Linked DNA regions of Homo sapiens. The protein of the gene in region 1 purifies or fractionates together with the protein of each later gene. This does not show direct contact. Each region holds a gene or a part of one and is shown in the gene's direction. Other genes may lie near its edges.

Region 1 (3,500 bases):
CAAACTGGTGCCTAAAAGCAGTGAAACCACCATTGGACTAATTGGAATGATTTGTCTATTGGCTGAAGATTTGACCACAGAGAGATTCTGCTTTTTTTTCCTTGCAGGGATGAAAAATTAAAAAAAAAAAAAAAGATTGGTTCCTTTTTCTCTTCCTAGCCTCCTGACAGTAAGTAGAGAGCCAGAAGAATGATGCCAAGGCATCCTGGCCTGCTATGTGGAGAACGCTCTTTCCTTACTGTCTCACTTAATAGAACTCCTGTTCTGGCAGTGTCAGATGCTGCAGCAGCAAGGGAATGCCATTGAGTGATTGCAGTAAGCTATGCAGCATTTTCATGTTTAAAACTACTGAGATAATAAAGTGAGAACTTGAGGCCACCAAATTTTAAGTTGTAATTAGAAGGATTTTGTTAATTAGGAATATGAGAGTGCTACAGTGATCACCTGGAATGGCTCCATAAATACAAATGAGGTGTTAACTAGTGAAGCAAGTTGCCAGTGTTTGTGTGTTTGGTGAGACTCCTAAGTTCTGCCATGAAGTTAAAGAAAATATTTTTTAAGATTCAAGAAAGCTGTGTGAATGAATTCAAAATTATTATGACTGTAGATCTTTTAAAAAGCTATCAGTATTAGTTTTACTTTGATTTTTATCTAAAGAGAAATACAGAATGAATACTTACAGCATTACAATTCAAATGTGCGTGGCTTTTTTTTTTCTTAGTTACTAGATATATAGTAGTAATACCTTTATGTAATATTTTGAAGTAGAGATTGAATTGGTATAATTCCCTACCTTAAAAATATTACACAATAGCATTTTTGTCATATATTACGATAGCATTTTTGTGTACTTTACCACTTAACTTTTTTTTTCCTTTTCTTTTTTTTTTGGAGACAAAGTCTTGCTCTGTCGCCCAGGCGGGAGTGCAATGGCAGGATCTCAGCTCACTGCAACCTCTGCCTCCTGGGTTTAAGCCATTCTCCTGCCTCAGCCTCCTGAGTAGCTGGGACTATAGGCGTGTGCCACCACGCCCGGCTAATTTTTGTTTTTTTAGTTTTTTTTGGAGACGGAGTCTCGCTTTGTCACCCACACTGGAGTGCAAATGGCATGATCTCGGCTCACTGCAGCCTCCACCTCCTGGGTTCAAGCGATTCTCTTGCCTCATGCACCACCACGCCCAGTTAATTTTTGTATATTTAGTAGAGATGGGGTGTCACTATGTTGGCCAGGCTGCCGACCTCAAGTGATCTTCCCTCCTCAGCCTCCCAAAGTGCTGGGATTACAGGCATGAGCCACTGCCCCTGGCCAGTGTCAGATGTTTAGTTTGTCATTAAAATGGAGCAAGAATACATAACTCGTGAGGTTGTAAGATTATAGATATGTTTACTAATGACTGACTCATAGATATCCAGCTGTTAAAACTCTTCAAGAAGTAATCAGGGCAGGCGGAAATGGATGTAATTAACCAAGGTCAAGCAGTAAGTTCAGGAACCAGGATAAAAATACAGAATTGCTCCCGAGTAAGTACTCTGTTTTCCATTATTCTGGCTGGAATGCAGGTAATACAGAAAGTATATTGCTTCCTTTCATTGCTTTTTTTTTCTTCTTTTTTTCCTTTGAGGTGGAGTTTCGCTCTTGTTGCCCAGGCTGGAGTGCGATGGCATGATCTCGGCTCACCGCAACCTCTGCCTCCCGGGTTCAAGCGATTCTCCTGCCTCAGCCTCCTGAGTATTTGGAACTACAGGCACGGGCCACCACACCCGGCCAATTTTGTGTTTTTAGTAGAGACGGGATTTCTCCATGTTGGTCAGGCTGGTCCTGAGCTCCCGACCTTTGGTGATCCACCCACCTCTGCCTCCCAAAGTGCTGGGATTACAGGTGTGAGCCAGCACACCCGGCCCCCATAGTTCGTTTTTATTAAAAGAATCTGGGCCATCCTGGCTAACACGGTGAAACCCCCGTCTCTACTAAAAATACAAAAAAAAAGTAGCCAGGCGTCGTGGTGGGCACCTGTAGTCCCAGCTACTCGAGAGGTTGAGGCAGGAGAATGGGGTGAACCTGGGAGGTGGAGCTTGCAGTGAGCCGAGATCGTGCCACTGCACTCCAGCCTGGGCGAAGCAAGACTCCGTCTCAAAAAAAAAAAAAATCTGAAGTGTTTCAGTACCATGTTGGGACAGTAAACTGACTTAACGGAGCATAATAATGTGCATACTTACATACATTCAGAGGGCAAAAGCTCCAGTATGGTCTAAATGCAGTTAAGTGAACAACATGAATGAGTCAGGGATAACCCTGAGCTTGCGAAAAGTAAGCATATATACAAATGTGAATGTGTACAGCTGTGTTAGAAAACCATATAAAATAATAAAGATAGCCAGAATCATACCCTACTTTGCTAGTGTCATTTTTATCTCCAACTTGCCTGTTGCTACTTTATTTTAAATGTATTTTCTAGGACAGAGTTATGAACATTCTATTTATTAGAACCCTAGTTGTTAGTCTTGACCACATACTGTTAGATTTTAGTAGTTTACTATATTTGTTTTTAGTATCAATAGTATGGTACAAGTACTGACATTAAGGAAGACAAATTAGTATACTAACCATTTGTGGTTTCTTTAATTCCAAGATAAGTTCAAAATGTGTAAAATAGTTACACCTCTTAGTTTAGCATACATGGCTCCTCACAGTAAATCTTAAGTCTTGTCAGACCTTATTTTTTTTTTTTTTTTTTTTTGAGACAGAGTCTTGCTCTGTTGCCCAGGCTGGAGTGCAGTGGTGCGATCTTGGCTCACTGCAACCTCTGCCTCCTGGGTTCAAGCAATTCTTGTGCGTCAGCCTCCTGAGTAGCTGGGATTACAGGCATGCACCACCATGTCCAGCTAATTTTTGTATTTTTAGTAGAGACAGGGTTTCACCATGTTGGCTAGCTGGTCTCGAACTCCTGACCTCAGGTGATGCATCTGCCTCGGCCTCCCAAAATGCTGGGATTAGAGGTGTGGGCCACCCCGCCCGGCCCAGACCTTATCTTGACTATCTTAGTCATTTCTTCTCTTGCCTGACATGCCCTGTGCTCCTACCACCCTTTAAAGTGGTTTGTGTCATAAACATTTGATACACAAAAATGGAAACTTAGGACAAATATCTTGATGTCTGGTGGTTGAAAATGTGAACTGATTTGGAAATCACCGGTGTTTCTCCTCTTAATCTCTTCTCCATTCCATTCAGGAAATAGACTGTAAGGTGGGAAACAAGTATAAGCAGTTAGCCTCACTCTAAACCTGCTATGTAATAGACATTGGACTGAGTTCTGTCTACTCTCTGTAAGCAATCCAAGGTAATTGGCGAAAGTGGAAGGAATATGTACTCAGAAGACCAAAACTTTGGTTTTTAAATTGAATATCTATTAAGCACAAGGTAACAATTCTTACCACACACATCAGTTTTATTATTTCCCTTTTACAAATAAGACACAGATGGGTAGTCAGATGTCTTTGAG
Region 2 (4,151 bases), on another chromosome or scaffold:
ACGGTAAAATGATAATTGTAGAACAGAAGTGGTGGAGATATGGGTGTTCACCGCAATTCTTTCAACTTCTTTGTGCTTTGAATTTTTCATAAAATGAGGCTGTGCATGTTGGCTCACGCCTGTAATCCCAGCACTTTGGGAGGCCAAGGTGGGTGGATCACTTGAGGTCAGAAGTTCGAGACCAGCCTGGCCAACATAGTGAAACCCCATCTCTACTAAAAATACAAAAATTAGCTGGGCGTGGCAGTGAGTGCCCGTAATCCCAGCTACTTTGGAGGCTGAGGCAGGAGGATCGCTTGAACCCGGGAAGCGGAGGTTGCTGTGAGCTAAGATCACACCACTGCACTCCAGCCTGGGCGACAGAGCGAGGCTTTGTCTCAAAATAAAAATTATTTTTTCATGAAATGTTGAGGGAAATCTCCTGCAATGATTCTTTTGTCTTTTTTGATAAAATGCAGGCTTCTCTGCCAACACTCTCGTATCCTCTCCACACACATCATCCTAAATGGGGATGTACCCTTGCTGCTCCCAGTACCTGGAACAGGAACATTCTTCTCAGTGTTCTCCAGCCCTCTATGCCCTCTTACTGTTTTATTTTTTAGACAGGGTCTTGCTCTGTCATCCAGGCTGGAGTGCAGTGTCACCATCATGGCTCACTGCAGCCTCGACCTCCCAGGTTCAAGTGATTCTCCTGCCTCAGTCTCCTGAGTATCTGGGATTACAGGTATGCGCTACCATGCACGGCTAGCGAATTTTTTATGGAGACTGGGTCTCACCATATTGCCCAAGCTGGTCTTGAACTCCTGGGCTGAAGCAATCCTCCCGCCTTCTTTAAACTCATCTCATTGATGCCTTCTCCAGGAAGCCTGTGCTGTTCCCTCAGCAAGAGGCTTCTTACCTGATCCCCCACAGCCTCTCCTACAGCTCAGCAACGGTTTATGGAATGAAAGGCCTCTCTTGAAGCTTTGCAGGCACCTGCCTGCCTGAGGTGTTAGCAAATCTGCAGACCCGCCCTGAGGCCATGTGTCTAGTTACCCTGGTCTCTGAATCACAGATGAGCTCTCATTTCTTCCCACAAATAAACCCTGTGACCCTCCACCCTCTACTCAGAGAACCCGCCCTCAGGTAGTTCCCTGTTTGTGACATACACACACTTAGCCCTGAGGCTGGACTGACAGGCCGACCTGGCTGGTGGACTCCAGCCCAAGCCTGCCAGCTGCCTGCCGGGGTGGGGGCCTTGGCGGGAGAGGACGGGGCCGGGTGGGGAGGAAGGCGGGGCCTGAGGCTGTGCGAGGCGAGTCGGTGTGTCCCTGGCTGGGACGGAAGTTGCACCACAAGTACAATTAGTTTCAGTTTTGTTTCTTTTCCAGGCACCCAGCAACGGCGGCCTCCAGGCCTCAGGCCCCCTCACCATCCTAGAGGTCAAGATCAGCTCTGGCTAGGTAAGGGGTGGGGGGCGGCACAGCTATAGGAAGGACCGAGCGGAGGGAGTAGGGGGAGGGGAGTGGAGAGAGAGCGCGGGAGGAGGAGGAAGGGAAGGAAAGGGAGGGCGTGAAGAGGCACCCGGAAGGCAGGAGGAGAGGGCAGGAGGGAAACTGCACTCGCCTCCCTCCCGCTCCGTGGCCACAGGTCCCCGCAAGAAAGACCCCGTCCCACTCTCTGAGGTCTCCTCCCAGCTCCAGAAAAGGGGACATTCCACCTAGTCTGCCCAACAAGTAGGTCTCAGCCACTGTGCCAGGAGCTCGGGACTCCCTCCCTCCAGAGGTTTCTGGAATGCATTCAGCAGGAAAAGCTAAAAGAACAGGACTCCAGGAGATAAGCCAAGGCCAAGTCTATCAGAGGGTGAGCCAGCAGCGGGAAGGGGACCAGCCCTTCCCCTAGCGTTTTTTCTGCCCGCTCCAGAATCCGCTTTAGAAACTGTTAAATGCAGAAAGTGGGGCCTCCACCACCCGCGATGCTGCCCCAGGTCTAGCAGAAGACAGGTGTAAGGCCAGGCGGGTGCGGTGGCTCATGCCTGTAATCCTAATGCTTTGGGAAGGCCGAGACGGGAGGATAGCCTGAGGCCAGGAGTTGGAGACCAGCCTGGGCAACATAGCAAGACCCCATCTCTACAAAAAGTGATAATTTTTAAAAAATGGGCTGGCTGGGCCCCTGGGCATGGTGGCTCACGCCTATAATCCCAGCACTTTGGGAGACCGAGGAGGGCGGATCACCTGAGGTCAGGAGTTCAAGACCAGCCTGGCCAATAGGGCCAAACTCCATTTCTACTAAACATACAAAAATTAGCCGGGTGTGATGGTGCGCACCTGTAATCACAGCTACTCGGGAGGCTGAGGCAGGAGAATCACTTGAACCTGGCAGGTGGAGGTGGCAGTGAGCCAAGATCGCACCACTGCACTCCAGCCTGGGCAACAGAGTGAGACTCTGTCTCAAAAAAAAAAAAAAAAAAAAAAAAGGCTGGGCATGGTGGCACATGCCTGTACTCCCAACTACTCAAAAGACTTGAGTCTAGGAGTTTGAGGCTGCAGTGAACTACGATCACGCCACTGCACTCCAGCCTGGGTGACAGAGGGTGACCCTATTGCTAAAAACTAAAATAAAATAAAAAGAAGGCAGGTGTATGGGGCTTGGAGGATTAAAGCCCCCTAAGCTACTGCAAGATCCTACCCCAACTGGCAGGACCTAGGCATCTCTGCCCACTGGGATCCCCGTCTGTGTCCTTACTGCCTGCTCCTCGCACCCTGGCACCCTATACAGCAGGACCCCAGTACCTGTGCACACAGGAGGGCTTCCACCATGTTTGCCACAAGGCCTGTGGACTGGGGACACTGAGGATTCGATTATTAGCTAAGGCCAGGGACTCCTGGTCTTGTCAGTTCTCACAGGTCTGACCCAACAAGTAGCACTGACATTTTTACGTTTGCTGGATGTACACACGGAAGTGGAGGAGGAGGAGGAGAAGGAGGAGGGCAGCTCCTTAGCTCAAGAGCAAGTGGCCCAAGGCCTCAGAAGACTAGAAGGAAGTTCCTGGCCATTCAGGTGAGACCTCAGGTTCCTTCCCGGCCATTTGGGTCAGCCCCTAGCCCTGGGGATCCGTGGGGCTTGAGGACGGGCGGTAGAAGCTAGAGGGTGAGCTGGTGAAGGTGCCTTCTCAACTCTGATCCTGACGCCTCTGCCTGCAGCATGGTTTCCCACGGGTCCTCGCCCTCCCTCCTGGAGGCCCTGAGCAGCGACTTCCTGGCCTGTAAAATCTGCCTGGAGCAGCTGCGGGCACCCAAGACACTGCCCTGCCTGCATACCTACTGCCAAGACTGCCTGGCACAGCTGGCGGATGGCGGCCGCGTCCGCTGCCCCGAGTGCCGCGAGACAGTGCCTGTGCCGCCCGAGGGTGTGGCCTCCTTCAAGACCAACTTCTTCGTCAATGGGCTGCTGGACCTGGTGAAGGCCCGGGCCTGTGGAGACCTGCGTGCCGGGAAGCCAGCCTGTGCCCTGTGTCCCCTGGTGGGTGGCACCAGCACCGGGGGGCCGGCCACGGCCCGGTGCCTGGACTGTGCCGATGACTTGTGCCAGGCCTGTGCCGACGGGCACCGCTGCACCCGCCAGACCCACACCCACCGCGTGGTGGACCTGGTGGGCTACAGGGCCGGGTGGTATGATGAGGAGGCCCGGGAGCGCCAAGCGGCCCAGTGTCCCCAGCACCCCGGGGAGGCACTGCGCTTCCTGTGCCAGCCCTGCTCACAGTTGCTGTGCAGAGAGTGCCGCCTAGACCCCCACCTGGACCACCCCTGCCTGCCTCTGGCTGAAGCTGTGCGTGCCCGGAGGCCGGGCCTGGAGGGACTGCTGGCCGGTGTGGACAATAACCTGGTGGAGCTGGAGGCAGCGCGGAGGGTGGAGAAGGAGGCGCTAGCCCGGCTGCGGGAGCAGGCGGCCCGGGTGGGGACTCAGGTGGAGGAGGCGGCTGAGGGCGTCCTCCGGGCCCTGCTGGCCCAGAAGCAGGAGGTGCTGGGGCAGCTACGAGCCCACGTGGAGGCTGCCGAAGAAGCTGCTCGGGAGAGGCTGGCGGAGCTTGAGGGCCGGGAGCAGGTGGCCAGGGCCGCAGCCGCCTTCGCCCGCCGGGTACTCAGCCTGGGGCGAGAGGCCGAGATCCTCTC
Region 3 (3,500 bases), on another chromosome or scaffold:
ATTCTTTTCTCCTTTTTTAATTTAACATTGTATTGTGATAGTTCTCTACTTTTATTAGATATTCTTTGAAAACCTGATATTTACTAGCTTTTTTGGTGAATTTGTCCAGTCATGTTAATTAAATATGGGAATTACTGCCTGGATACAGTATGTACATATTTTAGTCTCTGGGTAAATGATGCCAGATTGCACTTCAGAAACTTGATAGTAGTTTTCCTTATGACCAAAACCATAAAAGAAATTAAAATGTATCTTTTTTTTAAGAATAAATTTGCAGTGTGGTTATGGAAATTTTTAGTTGTTAAATTTTATAGCTCTTTAGAAATGCAGTAACAATTTTCCTAATGAAATTCATAGGTACAAAAGTTTTTTCTGGGGGATTTGTTGCTTCAAAAATAGTGTTTATATGTTTTTAGTTATTAAATAATTTTTCATGCTGTTGCTATGGTGTACTGTAACTAGAATATATGTAGTGAATACAATTTTAATTTTTGAGTTATACTTTATATATTTGATGGATAACAAATTTCTAATTTATTGATGAACTAAAATTATGTAGTAATCAACTACTTTATCCTTTGAAAACATCCAGTGAGAACTACTAGCATCTGGGGAATACTTCAACTTGTTTGAAATACTAAATCAAACAAGTTAAAATTAATGCTGTGTGATTGTGTACTTGACTATTGTCTTCTGTTGGGCTAGAAATTAGAAGAATTCAGAAGGCAGCTAACGTTCCTATAATAAAGTGAAATATGGAATTCTCATATTTTTTATAATTCATAATTCAATATTCATATATATTTCATAATTCATAATTATAATATGAATTATAATGTTATATATTATATAACATTATATTATTATGTTATAAATATAAATATAATTCATAATTATAATTCATAATTCAATATTAAGTAAATTTTTTTGCGTGACATTCTAATTTGAATACCTTACATTAAAATGAGTAAAAACTAGAATGTTAATAGAAAATTCACAAAGGTATTAAGAGTATAACATTTTAAAATAATAAAATTATATTGTTTTAGTTCTACAGTTTGTTTATGTCAGGTAATTTAACACTAAGTACATATCTTTTTAAATCTCGAAGAGTTACTTCTAAAGGGGTGATAAGCTAACGTTACCCATGGATTTGATCCATGGATTATTTGGAATTATTAATTTCCAAATATTGGGGGTTTCTGGATATATTCTATATTCTTTTGTTCCTTTTAAATTTACTGAGACCTGTTTTATGGCCTAACATATGGTCTAAGTATTTTGAAAATAATATATTGTAGAGTTGTTTGGTGGGGTATTCTATATTTGTCAATTAGATCAAAGTAGTTGACAGTGTTCATACCATCAGTGTTTTTACTGACTTATTATTTTCTAGTTCTATCAGTTGCTGAGAGAAACATGTTAAAATTTCCAACTATACTTGTGGATTTGTCTGTTTCTCACTTACATTCAATTCTGTACCACCTTCTGTTGTATTCACCTAGAAATATTTTATGCTTGGTTATGCTTATGTGTGTCCGAGTTAAGAGAACTGAAACCAGTGATTTTGTACTAGGCACGTTGTTCTATATTTTGTCTCCTTCACTTAATTCATATTATGGGTCATTTTATTTCAATATACATACATCTGTCTACCTCACTTTTCTTAGTGACTGTAATATTTCATCGTGTGCCTATACCATAATTTATTTAACCAGTCCCCACTGTTGGGCATTTTGGTAGTTTCTAGAGTTTTTAAAATTACAATTAGTACCCCAGTGAATATATTCATATGTAAGTCTTTGTACTTACATGGAAACACGTCTGCAAGATAAATCCCTAGAACTAGAATCACTGGATCAGCTCATACCTGCATTTTAAATTTGTATAGGTGTTGTCAATTGCTCTTCAAAGAAGTTGAACCACTTTACATTCTCATCAACATAAAAGCGTGCCTGCTTTTCCCTAAACCTTTGATAAATTAGTCTATTGTCAGAGGTTTTCACCATCACCCATAGGATAAATGGCATTTCATTGTTTTAATTATTGTCCTTAATTAGTTCATAAAGCATTATTTCATACATTTAAAGACATTTGTACTTCTGTTTTAGTGTGATCTGACTCTTCATGTTCTTTTTTTTTTTTTTTTTTTGAGACAGAGTCTTGCTCTGTCGCCCAGGCTGGAGTGCCGTGGCGCGATCTGGGCTCACTGCAAGCTCCGCCTCCCAGGTTCACGCCATTCTCCTGCCTCAGCCTCCTGAGTAGCTGGGACTACAGGCGCCCACCACCATGCCCAGCTAATGTTTTGTATTAGTAGTAGAGATGGGGTTTCACCCTGTTAGCCAGGATGGTCTCGATCTCCTGACCTCGTGATCCACCAGCCTCAGCTTTCCAAAGTGCTGGGATTACAGGCGTGAGCTACCGCACCTGGCTTTGCCCATTTTTAGTTGGTTGTTGGTCTTTGTATAGTAAGACCTTTGTTGTTTGTCTTCAGTTTGTCTTTTTGACTTTACAGTTAGCAACTTCGTTATTGTTTCTAATTGAAATTGTATTATCTGTGATATTTATCAGATCTGGCTCTGAATGATTGTGGGCTATTATCAAAAATCAAATTCCTATCAGAGTTTGAAACAATTATATCAACATCCAGGATACTCATGCCACAAGCTCTGGAAACAGGTTTTTGTTTTCTTTTGTTTTTGTTCTTAACATAAAGTAGGTGTTCTTTAAATGTTTGGAACAGTATTAGCATCATGGAAATAATTTTATTTCAAAAGATGAGTGTTGTGAAAGCCACATGTGTATTTCTGTGATCTCATGCAGCTATACTTTTTTTAAAGTAATGATTTTTATATCATTCTCATTCAGTGTATAATTATACTCTTCTAGTTTATTTTTTCATATTTATATTCTAATTTTGTGAGATCACTTTAAAGAAATTGAGCAATATAGAAAAGAAAATTAAAAATCATTTGTATAACCCAGAGATGACTATTACAATGCCTTGCCTTCCAGGATTTTCTGTGTACATGTATTATGTATATCGTGTGTGTGTGTGTATGTGTGTAAAATTGTATGAGTTTATATTTTCTTTTTCATGATTGGAGTATCATATATGTGTTTATATATGTAGGTTTTTTGAAGTTAATCTTATAACTTGAACTTTTAAGTATAATTTTCAAGTAGCTATTCATTAACAGTAACCTATGTAAATAGGTATTAGTTTTAGACTATTTGGTAATGAATAATGTGCTTTAAAAAAAAATCAACCTTACCTCTAGAATATAATTAATGAGGTCGTGATAAGAGAGGAAGTTCATTAAAATGGCTTTTATTCATCTTGTTATGTTAGACAAGTTGTCAATGTAGGTAATCTTTTTTTTTTTTTTTTTTTGAGCGGAGTCTCGCTCTACCTTTATGAAGATATTCCATGTGTGAAATAAGAGGGAAGATCTATGCACTTGTTTTTAACCTTTGCTGGCTTCCAATTCTTGCAGGGC
Region 4 (3,500 bases), on another chromosome or scaffold:
CTTTAGGTTTGTGAAATGAAGAACTGTAATAAATGCATCTATTTTGAAGCTAAGAAAAAACAGGATCTCTATATGTGGTAAGAGAATGTATTAAGATTTTGGTTAAACTCATTTAAGTGGATTTGTTCTTTGTACCTTTTATGTTATAGACTCCTAGTGTTTCATGTTAAGGGTTGAGAATGAAGCAAACTTTTGATTTCACGAAACTTGATACCTTTAAAGAAAATTAAATGTATAAATATTATAAGCATATTATTTATGGTGAATAGGTGGTAAGCATTGACTACATTTGCTAATTAGTTGAAAAAGCTTACTCCATATCTTTCAGGCTTTCAAATTCACCTCACGGACCATCTGCTAAATTCCTTGTTCAAAATAGTAAGTTGACTCAATAAATTTTTTTAGATGAGGAAATTAAAAGTAATCTTTTGAAATAGTTGTGCAAAAGTTACAACTATTTTTGTTTTTGTTGTAATTTTTCTAGTTCATACCCTCGCTGAACTGAAGATGACTGGAAACTGTTTGAAAGGTTCTCGGCCCCTTTTGTCTTTTGACCCTGTAAGTTTCTCATTCAGTGTATGAGGTCTAATTTTCTTATCTGGCATGGTTGTTTTTAGTAGATATAGTTGTGTTATTCAATTTAGTTTCACCCCCACCTTGGTTTTATGGATTATCAATTCTTTCAGGTACATTTATAATGAGGTTATAGCCAAGTTATAGAAACAAATGAGCAAACAGTTTTAAACAAGGCAGTCTACTGTTAAATAATATGCTTACCTTATTTTTATAGGCTTTTGATGAATTACCACATTATGCTTTGTTAAAAGAACTCTTAATTCAGGTAAATATCTTTAAAATTAGCTATCCAAAATATACATGATATATCTTGGAATAAGGAACTAACATACACTTTTTTAACTAGATCTTTAGTACACCACGGTATCATCCCAAAAGCCAACCATTTGTGGACCACGTGTTTACTTTCACCATTTTGGATAATAGGATATGGTTTCGGAACTTTCAGGTAAGCTTTACTTGATTTTTAATTATACCTTTTTTTTAATTGAGTTTATTTATTTATGTTTTGAGACAGAGTCTCGCTCTTGTTGCCCAGGCTGGACTGCAGTGGCACAATCTTGGCTCACTGCAACCTCCACCTCCCGGGTTCAAGCTTCTGCTCCCTCAGTCTCCTGAGTAGCTGGGATTACAAGCACCCATCATCACGCCTGGCTAATTTTTGTAGTTTTAGTAGAGACGGGGTTTCGCCATGTTGGCCAGGCTGGTCTCAAACTCCTGACCTCAGGCCATCTGCCCGCCTTGGCCTCCCAAAGTGCTGGGATTCCAGGCGTGAGCCACTACACCCGGCCTAATTTTTTTTTTTAGAGATAGAGTGTCGCAGTGTTGCCTAGGTTGGCCTTGAACCTCCTGGCCTCAAATCATTCCTCCTCAGCATCTTGAGTAGGTGGGATTGCAGTTGTGAGCCACTGTGCCTGGTCAATTTTTAGTTAAACTTTTAGATAAGGATATACAGGGTTTGCATACACAAAAAATGCAAATAATTCTTTTGTTTTAAATAGCTTCCTTTTCCCTAAAGAGATTGCTGCAAGTAACTATGTACTGTCTTATATCTTAAGTGAGCTCTACCTACTTCTATTCATGACTGTTAGTTGATACAGAGTATGGATTTCCTAATAAGCCATTATATATTTAACTTTATAGAAAGGGAATAACTTGAAGATCCATGAGATACTTGGGTTCCTAATTTGTAGAAAGTGCTGTAAAGGATACAGTAAAATAGAAGTTTCTCTCTCAAAGCTTAGAAGTTTCTCTCTCAAAGCACCTCAAAGGTTAAGACCTAGCAAAATGTAATTGCTCTAGAAGGCATTCAATGGCAGCGGTTAGATGATGAGTCACACAGTGACTCATTCAGGAGAAAAGAGGAGGTGACTCTAGAAATCTTGAAGCAGGAGTTTGGCACGATAAGTGCAGAAAGATGAAGAGGTGGAAGAGAACAGCAAGAACAAAATTTTAGACAGTATATGACATAAACTGAGCTCTTTTCTGCATATTTTATATTGGATACCTGGCATGTGAGTTGAACACATCATCCTAACCTCTGAGGGTAGACATGCCTGAACTAATAGATAACATAAATATTTGTTGTTCGGAAGTTGCCTTTTAATTCCATAATCAGTAGCTATTAAATAAATTTGACTACATATCCTTTTAATCTAACTTGAATTAGATTTATAAAAACAATTTAGGGATTGATTTAAGTTTCAAGAGTTCCCCCATAATGTGCTTTAATACATTTTGTTAATAGTGGTTACTGTTTTAAAATCCTGTTTAACCAGTTTTTCAAGGATATATGCATTGTGACAAGCAAGATGTGAACCAAAATCTAATTACTCAATTTTAAAAGAACTCACTGAAAAAACATTTTTCCATGACAACTTCCTATAAGTACTAATAGATTTCAGAAAATATTGATGATTTGCCATTTACCAAGTTTCACCCCCACCTTGATTTTATGGATTATCAATTATTTCAGGCACATTTATAATGAGGTTATAGCCAGTATACCTTTTGGGAATAACGTAACCAAACCAAAATGAAATGTTTCCTTTTTATTAAAGATCATAGAAGAAGATGCTGCTCTTGTAGAAATAGGACCTCGTTTTGTCTTAAATCTCATAAAGATTTTCCAGGGAAGTTTTGGAGGACCAACTTTATATGAAAATCCTCACTACCAGTCACCAAACATGGTAAGCGGTTGTGTCATTCAGTAGTCTTCAATGTACCAGAACCCTTTGGCCAAAATGATTCTGTGAAGTAATTGCTGTTTTATTACCTGTGAAACTGAATTTGGTTTTTGCTGCATAGAAACTTGGAAATTACTCCCTTTTTTCATGACACTGGCTGAAAGGATATATGGTTCATAACTGAAAGTCTTTGCCTTATATAAAATGTTTATTTTTATTTCAAAAGCATCTAATCTTTTTTTTTTTTTTTTAGCATCGGCGTGTCATAAGATCCATCACAGCTGCAAAATACAGAGAGAAACAGCAAGTGAAAGATGTGCAAAAACTGAGAAAGAAAGAGCCGAAGACTCTTCTTCCACATGATCCCACTGCAGATGTTTTTGTAACACCAGCTGAGGAGAAACCAATAGAAATACAGTGGGTAAAACCAGAGCCAAAAGTTGATTTGAAAGCAAGAAAGAAACGGATTTACAAAAGGCAAAGAAAAATGAAACAGAGGATGGACAGTGGGAAAACAAAATAAGTCAATGGAAACCTGATTTGTTTTTCAGTTACTTTATATTTATTTTGTATTCAATGTGTAAATACTTTTATTATCTAATACTATCTTACGTCTAATTAGTGTAGCATTTACAAGAAAGAAAAATTAAGATCTTAAAATCAGTGATTATCTTTTTCTAAATAAAATATCACCAGAATTCATCAGTTAATTTCTGATTTCTTTTTGAAGTTTGTGTT
Region 5 (3,500 bases), on another chromosome or scaffold:
TTCTGGTTGCTAGGTCTATATTTCCGCTCCCAGGCAAGTGGAGAGCCGGGTTTCTCAACCTCAGCACTACTGACGTTTTGGGCCAGATTCTGTTTAGCACTATTCCTAGCCTCAATCCACAGATGACAGGAAGCACCACCCCCCCACCAGCCCCACTGGTTGTCCTAACCCAAAATGTCTTCAGATGTTGTAAAATACCCACTGAGGTCAAAATCGTTCCTGATTGAGAACCACTGATCTAAGAGGTCTTTCTTAGAGCAGCAATTCTCAAACTTTTTGGTCAGAGGACTCCTCAACACTTAAAATGTATTCAGGATCCCAAAGAATTTCTGTTTGTGTGGAATATAGCTATCAATATTTACCATATTAAAAATTAAAACTGAGAACAATTATATATTTGATTCACTTAAAAATAAGAATAAGCTTGCTATATGTTAACATAATGAACATGTTTCATGTAACTATATTTAATACTATATACATATTCATGTATATCCATTTAATATACATACCCAGGTATATAACTGTGTGTATTTATTTACATATTTATATATAATATTTATATGGATAATTATAAAATAACTGTTTTCCAAAACAAAAAATTTATTGAGAGGAGTTTTATATTTTTGCAAATTAATGTCTGGCATAATAGAAGATAACTAGATTCTCATATCCGCTTCTTTATTCAACCTGCTGTGAAATCATATATTGTGTAGCCTCTGGAAAATTTCATCGTGTATTCCTGAGAGAATGAAAGTGAAAAAAGCAAATAATGTTTAATGTTATTATGAAAATCACTTTAACCTTGCCAATTTTCTGCAAGGGTCTCCACATTTTGATAACGATTTAAATAATAATAAATAATTTTAAAAATGGACCAAATGCGAATTTCTAACTTACTTTATAACATTGAGCCAATCAGGAGTTTTGTGGGCACAGTTTTATTTTGGGATATTTTCTGAGGGAAGAATACATTATGTAACACCATTAATTATGTGGTGCAGGCGAGTCACTTTCCTCTCTGCGTTTCCGTTTTTCTTTTATGTGTAGGACCTGGAGCCATGGAAAGAAAACTTGAAGATCTATTTTAGCCCTGAAAGTTTAATTCTGTGCTCTCATTAGGGAAGACGAGATTGTAGAAAACAGGGGTCAATGAAGCATTATGTTAACTTAATACTTTTCTCTCTCAGCTGTTCTGTAGGAAGTTATACAATCAATTTTCGGGTAATGAGTTGTGATTCCTTTCCCATCCGACGCCTCTCCACTCCTTCTTCTGTCACCAAGCCAGCCAATTCTGTCTTCACCACCAAATGGATTTGGTATTGGAAGAATGAATCTGGCACATGGATTCAGTATGGAGAAGAGGTGAGCACTGTTCCTCCTTGTAGGGGGCTCTTGTTTAAACTTGTCAACTTAAAAAGAACACTGTTGGCTGGGCACGGTGGCTCATGCCTGTAAGCCCAGCACTTTGGGAGGCTGAGGCAGGTGGATCACCTGAGATCAGGAGTTCGAGACCAGCCTGGCCAACATGGTGAAACCCCATCTCTATTAAAAATACAAAAATTAGCCAGGCGTGGTGGCAGGCGCCTATAATCCCCGCTACTCTGGAGGCTGAGGCAGGAGAATCTCTTGAACCCGGGAGGTGGAGGTTGTAGTGAGCTGAGATTTCGCCACTGCATTCCAGCCTGGGGGATGGATTGAGACTCTGTCTCCAAAATAAATAAATAAATAAAATAAAAAGAACACTATTAATAAAATGTTTGAAGCCTACATGGTTACCCGTGGAGTGTGGTAGAGGAAGTGGTATTTTTTTACTTTGTACACAGCTATATTCAATTTTTTTTCAGCAAACATGTACTCCAATTGCAGTCATACATTAAAGTATATATTAATTTTTATTTTTATTTATTTATTTATTTTTGAGATGGAGTTTCACTCTTATCACCCATGCTGGAGTGCAATGGCGTTATCTTGGCTCACTGCAACCTCCATCTCCTGGGTTCAAGCGATCTTCCTGCCTCAGCCTCCCGAGTAGCTGGGATTACAGGCATGCACCACCACCACACCCAGCTAATTTTTGTATTTTTAGTAGACATGGGGTTTCAACATGTTGGACAGGCTAGTCGTGAACTCCTGACCTCAGGTTATCCGCCCACCTCGGCCTCCCAAAGTGTTGAGATTACAGACGTGAGCCACTGCGCCCGGCCATATATTAATTATTTTTAAGGAACCGCTTGAGACATGTCAGCTGCACTTCCCTCTTTCCTCACCATGAGAGGGGAGGGTGGAACCTTGAGATAGCTTTCTATGTATAAACACATAAAATGTACAGAGACTACTGCTTTGAGCTGGAAAAGAGGGTGAGAGTGAGAACTTAAAGGACTGTATGGATGATGGCATGGTTAATTAGACCAGGGAATGTGTTAATTCACTCAAGCAGTGAAACCACATCTGGTACAGATAGTCACTACTATTCATTCAGAGTCTGGATTTAGATGGACTTAAAGGACTGGAACTAGAAGATCCTAGGCTGACCCATAGTGGGGGCATAGTAATAGGGAGGGAAGTTTAGGTGAGCAGAGCCTCTGTCCTTCTGTCTCAGTGTCCCTTCCTCCCTTTAACTCATAGGATTAAAGAGAGAGAGAAAACAGACCTTAAGCAGGTAATGGAATCAGGGTGATGAGAAACAGAAAATGAAAGCAAGAGATTAAAATGAAGCCAAAAATAATGCATGGGCTGGGTGCGGTGGCTCACTCCTGTAATCCCAGCACTTTGGGAGGCCGAGGTGGGGTGGATCACCTGAAGTCAGGAGTTCGAGACCAGCCCGGCCAACATGGTGAAACCCTGTCTCTACTAAAAATACAAAAAATTAGCTGGGTGTGGTGGCGCGTGCTTGTAATCCCAGCTACTCAGGAGTCTGAGGCAGGAGAATCGCTTGAACCTGCAGGCAGAGGTTGCAGTGAGCCGAGATTGCACCACTGCACTCCAGTCTGGGTGACAAAAGTGAGATTCCAAAAAAAAAAAGATAATGCAGGGACAAAGGAATGGCAGCGTAAGGTTCTACATATTTAGGTTGGTGTAAAATTACTTTTGGGTTGGTGGTAATTACTTTTAATGGCAAAAACTGATTACTTTTGCACGGAACTAATAATTACGAGTCAGTGGGCTATACATTTGGCTCTGAGCTGCCTAACTGCCAAAGCAAACAAAATACTTGGGAGAGGCACTACTCTGTTATGTTAGTGAGGCCTGAGAAAAACACCTCCTATAGTGGGCCACATGGCGGGAACCCTGTGTGCTGTGGTGAGGTCCTCAACCACAAACAGCCCTACCATGAATTCAGCAGCATATTGGTTTCCAAACTGTCTTAGCAGCAGATACATTTTATCAAACCATCTTTCAAAGACTCTAAACGAGCCAACTAGAGTAGAGCAGGGCTGCCCTGGTGGAATAGGATATGGGCTCAGAGCTGTCTCCTGGACCCCTCCTTGTTGCTCTTC
Region 6 (4,122 bases), on another chromosome or scaffold:
AGATCGTGCCACTGCACTCCAGCCTGTGCGACAGAGCGAGACTCCATTACAAAAAAAAAAAAAAAAAAAAGGAAAAAAATTAATTAAACCCATCCAACAAGAGAAAGGAGAAGTATCTCCTAAACATGCCTAGAACATCTCTGGAAGGTTCCAGGAGACACTGGTAAGGGTACCTCTGGGGAGGCGGGTGGAGTGGGAGGAAGACATTACAAAGCAAACCTGTCCTACCCAAGGGCCGCGTGCGGCCCTGGAGGCCAGGCTTTGAATACAGCCCAACACGAATTCGTAAACTTCCTTAAAGCATTACGAGATTTTTTTTAGATTTTTTTTTTAAAGCTCGTCGGCTATCATTAGTATTAGTTTTATATATGGGCCCAGGCAATTCTTCTTCCAGTGTGGCCCACGGAAGCCAAAAGATTGGACTCCCCTGTTCTAAGGTATTCCATTTGTCAGTTATCCAGCCTCCACTCCTAACCTGTTTGTTTAGCGACAAGGTCTCACTCTACTGCCTACGCTGGAGTGCAGTGGCGCGGATCAGAACTCACCGAGCCTCGAATTCCTCAAGATCCTCCATCCTCCGCCTCCCAAGTAGCCGGGACTACAGGCGCGCACCACCACGCCGGCTAATGTTTATAATTTTTGGAGAGACGGAGTCTCGTATATGCACGGACTGGTCTCCAACTCCTGGAATCCCTCCGCCTCGGCCTCCCAGAGCGCTGGGATTCCAGACGCCAGCCACGCGCACGACCAGCCACGCTTATTTGTACAGGATCTTACCTCCCGCCTCTCTGCGAGACCAGAAGCTCCTAAGAGACTGGCCCAGACTCATCTTTCGGTCCCTCATGCTGCTTAACGTGGCAGGTCGGGTGGCTCCGGGTGGCTCCCGTGCCTTATATTTCAGGGACTCCTCACCAGCCTGGGGTTGGCGTCGCCTAAAGTCAACGGGCAGGTGGGCAGTGGAGCCAGGATTCCGCGCTCTGCCCATGCCACGCGCGGCCTTCCCGGAGGCGGGGACCGTGGAGTGTGGAGGACCCCACTGGGCCTCCTGACGGGACTCTTCTCTCGCCTCAAGGCGCTTTCTTGATTTCTATCTAGTAAGAGTGAGAGGACACCCAAGCTACTCCCCACAGCTCATGGAAAGCTGGAGAAAAGCGGAAGAGCAGGTGCCTCCTCAAAGAAGGGATTCTGACAGCAGCCACTGCCCCGGAGAGCGAAACCCCACGCTCTCCCGGAAATGACGCACAGAGGCTCGGTTCCCGCCCCCTCGCTTCCGGGGCCGGGCTTGCTCGCGCGTGCGCACCAGAAGCCAGCAGTGGGGTTGCACACGCGCCTCTTCACGAGGTGGAAACAAGATGGAGGATTCGGCCTCGGCCTCGCTGTCTTCTGCAGCCGCTACTGGAACCTCCACCTCGACTCCAGCGGCCCCGACAGCACGGAAGCAGCTGGATAAAGAACAGGTGAGTGGTTCCTGGGGAGGGTGGCTTGGAAGCAGTGTGGCGGTTACCTCGTGAGGCGCAGGGTGCCGGAACCCGAGTGCGTGCTCGGCGGACTTCCCCGGGGCTGTGGGACGGTCGCTGGCGGGCCGTGTGCCTCAGCTGTCTCTCCCCTTTACACACGTGGGTGGGCGCCTGCTTTCCCTGGTCCTGCGGCCTGGCGCTAGTGAATTGGGTTGCAAGTGTGCTGTGGAGCTAGATGAGATAGACCTGGCGACCTGGCTTAGCTTCCCTATCATTAGCGCTTGACCGAATCGCTTAGTTTTGCAGGTCTGTTACCCGTTATTTAAAGTGGGCCCTTCGGCTCCCCGTTATCCAGGATCGGGAGAGGTAATGAGTGTAAAGCGCTTTGGCCTGGTACATGGTAAGAAGGTGCTCAGTAGGCCGGGCGCGGTGGCTCACGCCTGTAATCCCAGCACTTTTGGAGGCCGAGGCGGGTGGATCACCTGAGGTCAGGAGTTCGATACCAGCCTGGCCAACATGGTGAAACCCCGTCTCTACTAAAAATACAAAAATTAGGTGGGCGTGGTGGCGGGCGCCTGTAATCTCAGCTACTCGGGAAGCTGAGGCAGGAGAATTGCCAGGAGTTCTCAGTAAATGCTAAATGCATTTTGCTTTGCGTTTTTCCTGGGATTACTGCTTTCATCATTGAGGGCAGGAGGGGCACGTTTCCCTCTAGCCCAATCTCTTTAAGTAGAAGAGGTGCCCTTCTGCACACAGTACTGGAAGTGGGTACTTAGGCATGTTTGATGGATTCTTAGATTTCTGTGAATATAAACTGCAGGATCCTAATAGATACGGTTATGGAGGTTACCCCTTGAAATAGAAGTTGGAAGGGAAAAAATAGAAGGTGTGGGAGGGGGCAAATGCTAAATTAGATTGAGAACATTTCATTTATTTGTGTAAGTTATTGTGAAAACATTTCACTTATTTGTCTAATTTCCACTTTGCAGGTTAGAAAGGCAGTGGACGCTCTCTTGACGCATTGCAAGTCCAGGAAAAACAATTATGGGTTGCTTTTGAATGAGAATGAAAGTTTATTTTTAATGGTGGTATTATGGAAAATTCCAAGTAAAGAACTGAGGGTCAGATTGTAAGTTGTGATTTTCTACCTTTGCTGTTTTTATCTGTGTGTTTATTCTTTGTAACTCGAACAATTGCATCATGGTTACTAATGGAAACTTTGCAAACTTATAATAAAAATCTGACGTGAAGTAAAACAACTATGTCCAAAAGAACCATAGAGGCTTGATGTGGTGGCTCACACCTGTAATCCCAGCACTTTGGGAGGCCGAGGTGGACGGATCACCTGAGGTCGGGAGTTCAAAACCAGCCTGGCCAACATGGTAAAACCCTGTCTCTCCAAAAATACAAAAATTAGCCAGGCATGATGGCGGGTGCCTGTAATCTCAGCTACTCGGGAGGCTGAGGCAGGAGAGTGGCAGTGAGCGGAGATGTCTCCATTGCACTCCAGCCTAGGCGACAGAGCAAGACTCTGTCTCAAAAAAATAAAAAATAATAAAAAATAAAAGAACCGTAGAAATTCAGATGTGCTAAAATTTTCTAGAAATTTCACCAGTTTTCTTAGAGCTTGGTGGACAGCTAACGTAATCAGGTCTGTTGAATCGAAAACGTGGTGTTCGAAAGAATAAAGGTGGAATAAGTTAAACAGCTTTATTTTATTTTATTTTTTTATTAGAAACTGTTATCTTTCCATGTCAAGCAAAAATTCTTTGGGGCTACAATTTATTCCTTTGTACAGAGACTATTAAAAACTGCAGTGAATTTCTGTCTATGGAAAAGAAATCCATGGTGATTATACAGAATGCTTCTTCAGAACATAGGTTGTAAGCATAAGAAATGAGTTAAACCCTTGTATTTTATTTTCTGTAAGATGTGGCATAATTGTGTTTGCTGGTCCCTCTTGGTTTAGTCCATGTTTTTGGTTTCGATTCTTTTATCTCTCCTTTTTTTTTTTTTTTTAAGAGACGAGATCTTGCGCTGTTGCCCAGCTGGAGTACAATAGTGAGATCTGTGTTCACTGCAACCTCAACCTCCCTGACCTGACTCAAGTGATCCTCCCACCTCAGCCTTCCAAGTAGCTGGGACTACAGGTGCACACCACCATGCCTAGCTAATTTTGAAATCTTTGTGGAGATGAGGTTTCACTGTGTTCTCCAGGCTGGTCTCGAACTCAGGCTCAAGCAGTCCTCCCTCTCAGTCTCCCAAAGTGTTGGGATTACAGGCATGAGCCTCCATGCCTGGGCTGTTTCAATTCTTAAAAGTTATGTTATGCTGGGCATGGTGACTCATCCCTGTAATCTCAGCACTTTGGGAGGTGAGGTGGGTGGATCATTTGAGGCCTGGGAGTTTGAGATCATCCTGACCCAACATGGCGAAATCCCATGTCTCCTAAAAATACAAAAATTAGCCAGACATGATGGTGGGCGTCTGTAATCCCAGCTGTTTGGGAGGCTGAAGTGCAAGAATCATTTGAACCCAGGAGGCAGAGGTTGCAGAGACTCCAGCCTGGGCGACAGTGAGACTCCCATCTCAAAAAAAAAAAAAAAAGTTATGTTGGCTGAGTGTGGTGGCTCACACTGTAATCTCAGCAGTTTGGGAGGCTGAG
Region 7 (2,811 bases), on another chromosome or scaffold:
GAGAGGGTGTCATGGTGGGAAGCCATTGGAGGTTTTGAGTTAGCAGCTGGATTCTAGGGTCATTCTGGATGTCCGTATCACTGCTGTCTTGGGACCCTGTGTGGAAACACTGGCATTGTCTTCAGCCCTTCCTCCGTATGTAGTCAGTAAGTGTAGATAAGTAGTTCAGATAATTCTTAAGAACTATTGTAACCATAATAGATTTGTTGCCCAATGCACACAGCAAGTCAATATGCTGAGACACCACCAGGTTGCAGCAGAGAAAGAAGTTTAACCGTAGGGTCACCAAAGGAGGAGATGGGAGGAATCCTGAAATCATTTCCACGAGGAGTTTGGGGTTAGGGTTTTAAGGGTTTTGGAGTGGGCTGGAGTGAGGGTCATTGGTTGGGTGAAGAGTGCAGGGTGAAGTCACGGACAGGGAGATGAAGAAGCTGTGTTCTCATGCAGATCCCGTTTCTCTGGGGATCTTCAAACTGGTTGCTGGAATTAGGGATCTGAAAAGACATTTTAAGCAATCCTTAAACAAAAACCTTATGATTCTAATGTCAGAGATCTTGCCTATAGGAACAATGGGGGTGCATATCAATTCTTACATAGTCTTATGACCCAAATGTCAGAAATCCTATCTATAGGGACAGTGGGGATGCAAATGGTCAGTACCTAGTGTTCAGGAACTTTTAGCAACAAGGATATGGGCCAAAGTGCCCCCTAATTAGTGCTTAATTATAATTGTATTTCTGTCCAGAACTTGGCAGATACTTCTTGTCAACCCTTTGGAGGCAGTTTCACTCTCATATGCCTTACTCTGTGATTCTGTTTTTCTTTTTTGGTTAAGAGCAGAAACCCCTTCAGAAACTGAAAGCCAAAAATTGCCCTTCCTAGAAAAATGTATGTATAAATTTTGTGTGTGGTTTCCTGAATTTTATAGTTCTGTACTTATTTAGTGATTTGCCCGGCCACTCTTGACTTTAGAACATCACTTTTAAGTTCTCTGAGTTTTTGTTGCAAGGATAAAATGATATTATACATGTGAAACACCAGTAGAAAGCTTGGCACATACTTATCTTTGCGGTTACCTAAAACAGGCCAGTCATTTCAGGGTCCCCAGACTTAGTTCTCTAATGAACTCTCTTCAATCACAGAATTCCCCCTCCTTACCTTATACTCTTGCTTCAGGATGCCTCCTATCTTAGTCTGTTTTGTGATGATGCAACAGAATACTACAGATTGGGTAATTATAATGAACAGAAATTGTTTTGGCTCATGTTTCTGGAGGCTGGGAAGTCCAGTATCAAGGCACCAGCATCTGACAAGGGTCATCCCATCGTGGAAAGTGGGAGGACAAGAGCAAGCAAGAGAGGGTCAAACTTGCTTTTATAACAAACTCACTCTTTTTTTTTTTTTTTTTGAGACGGAGTCTTGCTCTGTTGCCCAGGCTGGAGTGCAGTGGCACGATCTCGGCTCATTGCAACCTCTGCTTCCTGGGTTCAAGTGATTCTCCTGCCTCAGCCTCCTGAGTAGCTGGGACTACAGGCATATGCCACCAGGCCCAGCTAATTTTTGTATTTTTAGTAGAGATGGGGTTTCACCATGTTGGCCAAGCTGGTCTTGAACTCCTGACCTTGTGATCTGCCCACCTTGGCCTCCCAAAGTGCTGGGATTACAGACGTGAGCCACCACATCCGGCCAACAGACTCACTCTTAAAAACGAACCCATCCCCGAGATCCATTAGTCCATTCATGGGGATGGAGCCCTCATGATCTAATTACCTCTTATTAGGCCTTACCTACCAACACTTGCTGCATTGGGGATTAAGTTTCTGTATCAGTCCATTTTCATACTGCTATGAAGAAATACATGAGACTGGTTAGTTTATAAAGAAAAAGAGGTTTAATGGACTCACAGTTCCACATGGCTGGGGAGGTTTCACAATCATGGCGGAAGGTGAAGGAGGAACAAAGGCATGTCTTACATGGCATCAGGCAAGAGTGTGTGTCCAGGGAAACTGCCCTTTATAAAACCATCAGCTCTCGTGAGACTTAATTCATCATAGGAGCGGCATGGGAAAGACCTGCCCCCATAATTCAATTACCTCCCACCCGGTCCTTCCCACAACACATGGGGATTATGGGAGCTACAAATCAAGATGAGATTTGGACACAGCCAAACCATACCAGTTTCCAACATATGAATTTTGGGGGACACATTTAAATCAGAGGACCTCCTCAAATGCCTCTCTTAGTACTGTTCTCATCTGTAACATCCAGCCTGGCCTTCATTTTTATGTAGTTGTGTGTGCTGATTTTGCATGTGCTTATATCAGCAGCCCCCTAGGGAAGGTCTAGGGAGCCTTGCTTTTCTATGATAAATCATTGGTTGGTTTTAATGGTTTAAATAGTCTTAGTTGGTTCATCCTGTGGAACTACACATGTATTCCTTTGATCCTAGTACTGATCTCTGGGCTTAATGTACATTGGTTTAAAAATACATTAATGAAATGACTCAAATTTGGGTGTTTTCAATACCTTCCCTTAGTCCTGAGAAGAGGACTGTTTAAGAGCAAGATATGAGTTCAGAAATTCCATTTTTCATTTTCTGATTCTATTTATTTCCCCCATTTCCACCCCTTAATAGCTTCTACCCTCCTCATCTTTGGAAGTTGTCCCAGAAGCAGCCCAGAACAATCCAGGGGAGGAAGTCACAGAAACTGCAGGTGAAGGGTCAGAATCCATCATTAAGGAAGAAACAGAAGAGAACAGTCACTGTGATGCTAACACAGAGATGCAGCAGATTCTCACACGAGTTCGGCA

The links.
Region 2: the proteins of CNBP (region 1) and TRIM56 purify together in Homo sapiens (co-immunoprecipitation; 3 studies listed by BioGRID and IntAct, with this or other methods). This does not show direct contact.
Region 3: the proteins of CNBP (region 1) and PUM3 purify together in Homo sapiens (affinity purification with mass spectrometry; 2 studies listed by BioGRID and IntAct, with this or other methods). This does not show direct contact.
Region 4: the proteins of CNBP (region 1) and BRIX1 purify together in Homo sapiens (affinity purification with mass spectrometry; 3 studies listed by BioGRID and IntAct, with this or other methods). This does not show direct contact.
Region 5: the proteins of CNBP (region 1) and ZC3HAV1 purify together in Homo sapiens (affinity purification with mass spectrometry; 2 studies listed by BioGRID and IntAct, with this or other methods). This does not show direct contact.
Region 6: the proteins of CNBP (region 1) and RSL1D1 purify together in Homo sapiens (affinity purification with mass spectrometry; 2 studies listed by BioGRID and IntAct, with this or other methods). This does not show direct contact.
Region 7: the proteins of CNBP (region 1) and GNL2 purify together in Homo sapiens (affinity purification with mass spectrometry; 2 studies listed by BioGRID and IntAct, with this or other methods). This does not show direct contact.

Annotation. Positions count from the first base shown.
Region 1 is NC_000003.12:129,177,397-129,180,896, reverse strand, and holds part of CNBP (CCHC-type zinc finger nucleic acid binding protein), read left to right. Parts: intron 1-3,500. UniProt on the Homo sapiens protein: Single-stranded DNA-binding protein that preferentially binds to the sterol regulatory element (SRE) sequence 5'-GTGCGGTG-3', and thereby mediates transcriptional repression. Has a role as transactivator of the Myc promoter.
Region 2 is NC_000007.14:101,084,130-101,088,280, forward strand, and holds the start of TRIM56 (E3 ubiquitin-protein ligase TRIM56), read left to right. Parts: upstream 1-1,351; 5' UTR 1,352-1,442; intron 1,443-2,876; 5' UTR 2,877-3,039; intron 3,040-3,182; 5' UTR 3,183-3,183; coding exon 3,184-4,151.
Region 3 is NC_000009.12:2,820,096-2,823,595, reverse strand, and holds part of PUM3 (pumilio homolog 3), read left to right. Parts: intron 1-3,497; coding exon 3,498-3,500. UniProt on the Homo sapiens protein: Inhibits the poly(ADP-ribosyl)ation activity of PARP1 and the degradation of PARP1 by CASP3 following genotoxic stress. Binds to double-stranded RNA or DNA without sequence specificity. Involved in development of the eye and of primordial germ cells.
Region 4 is NC_000005.10:34,922,211-34,925,710, forward strand, and holds part of BRIX1 (ribosome biogenesis protein BRX1 homolog), read left to right. Parts: intron 1-6; coding exon 7-77; intron 78-328; coding exon 329-378; intron 379-484; coding exon 485-558; intron 559-790; coding exon 791-841; intron 842-922; coding exon 923-1,024; intron 1,025-2,636; coding exon 2,637-2,765; intron 2,766-3,015; coding exon 3,016-3,285; 3' UTR 3,286-3,500. UniProt on the Homo sapiens protein: Required for biogenesis of the 60S ribosomal subunit.
Region 5 is NC_000007.14:139,071,721-139,075,220, reverse strand, and holds part of ZC3HAV1 (zinc finger CCCH-type antiviral protein 1), read left to right. Parts: intron 1-1,190; coding exon 1,191-1,365; intron 1,366-3,500.
Region 6 is NC_000016.10:11,848,743-11,852,864, reverse strand, and holds the start of RSL1D1 (ribosomal L1 domain-containing protein 1), read left to right. Parts: upstream 1-1,322; 5' UTR 1,323-1,352; coding exon 1,353-1,457; intron 1,458-2,446; coding exon 2,447-2,586; intron 2,587-4,122. UniProt on the Homo sapiens protein: Regulates cellular senescence through inhibition of PTEN translation. Acts as a pro-apoptotic regulator in response to DNA damage.
Region 7 is NC_000001.11:37,569,127-37,571,937, reverse strand, and holds part of GNL2 (nucleolar GTP-binding protein 2), read left to right. Parts: intron 1-2,635; coding exon 2,636-2,811. UniProt on the Homo sapiens protein: GTPase that associates with pre-60S ribosomal subunits in the nucleolus and is required for their nuclear export and maturation.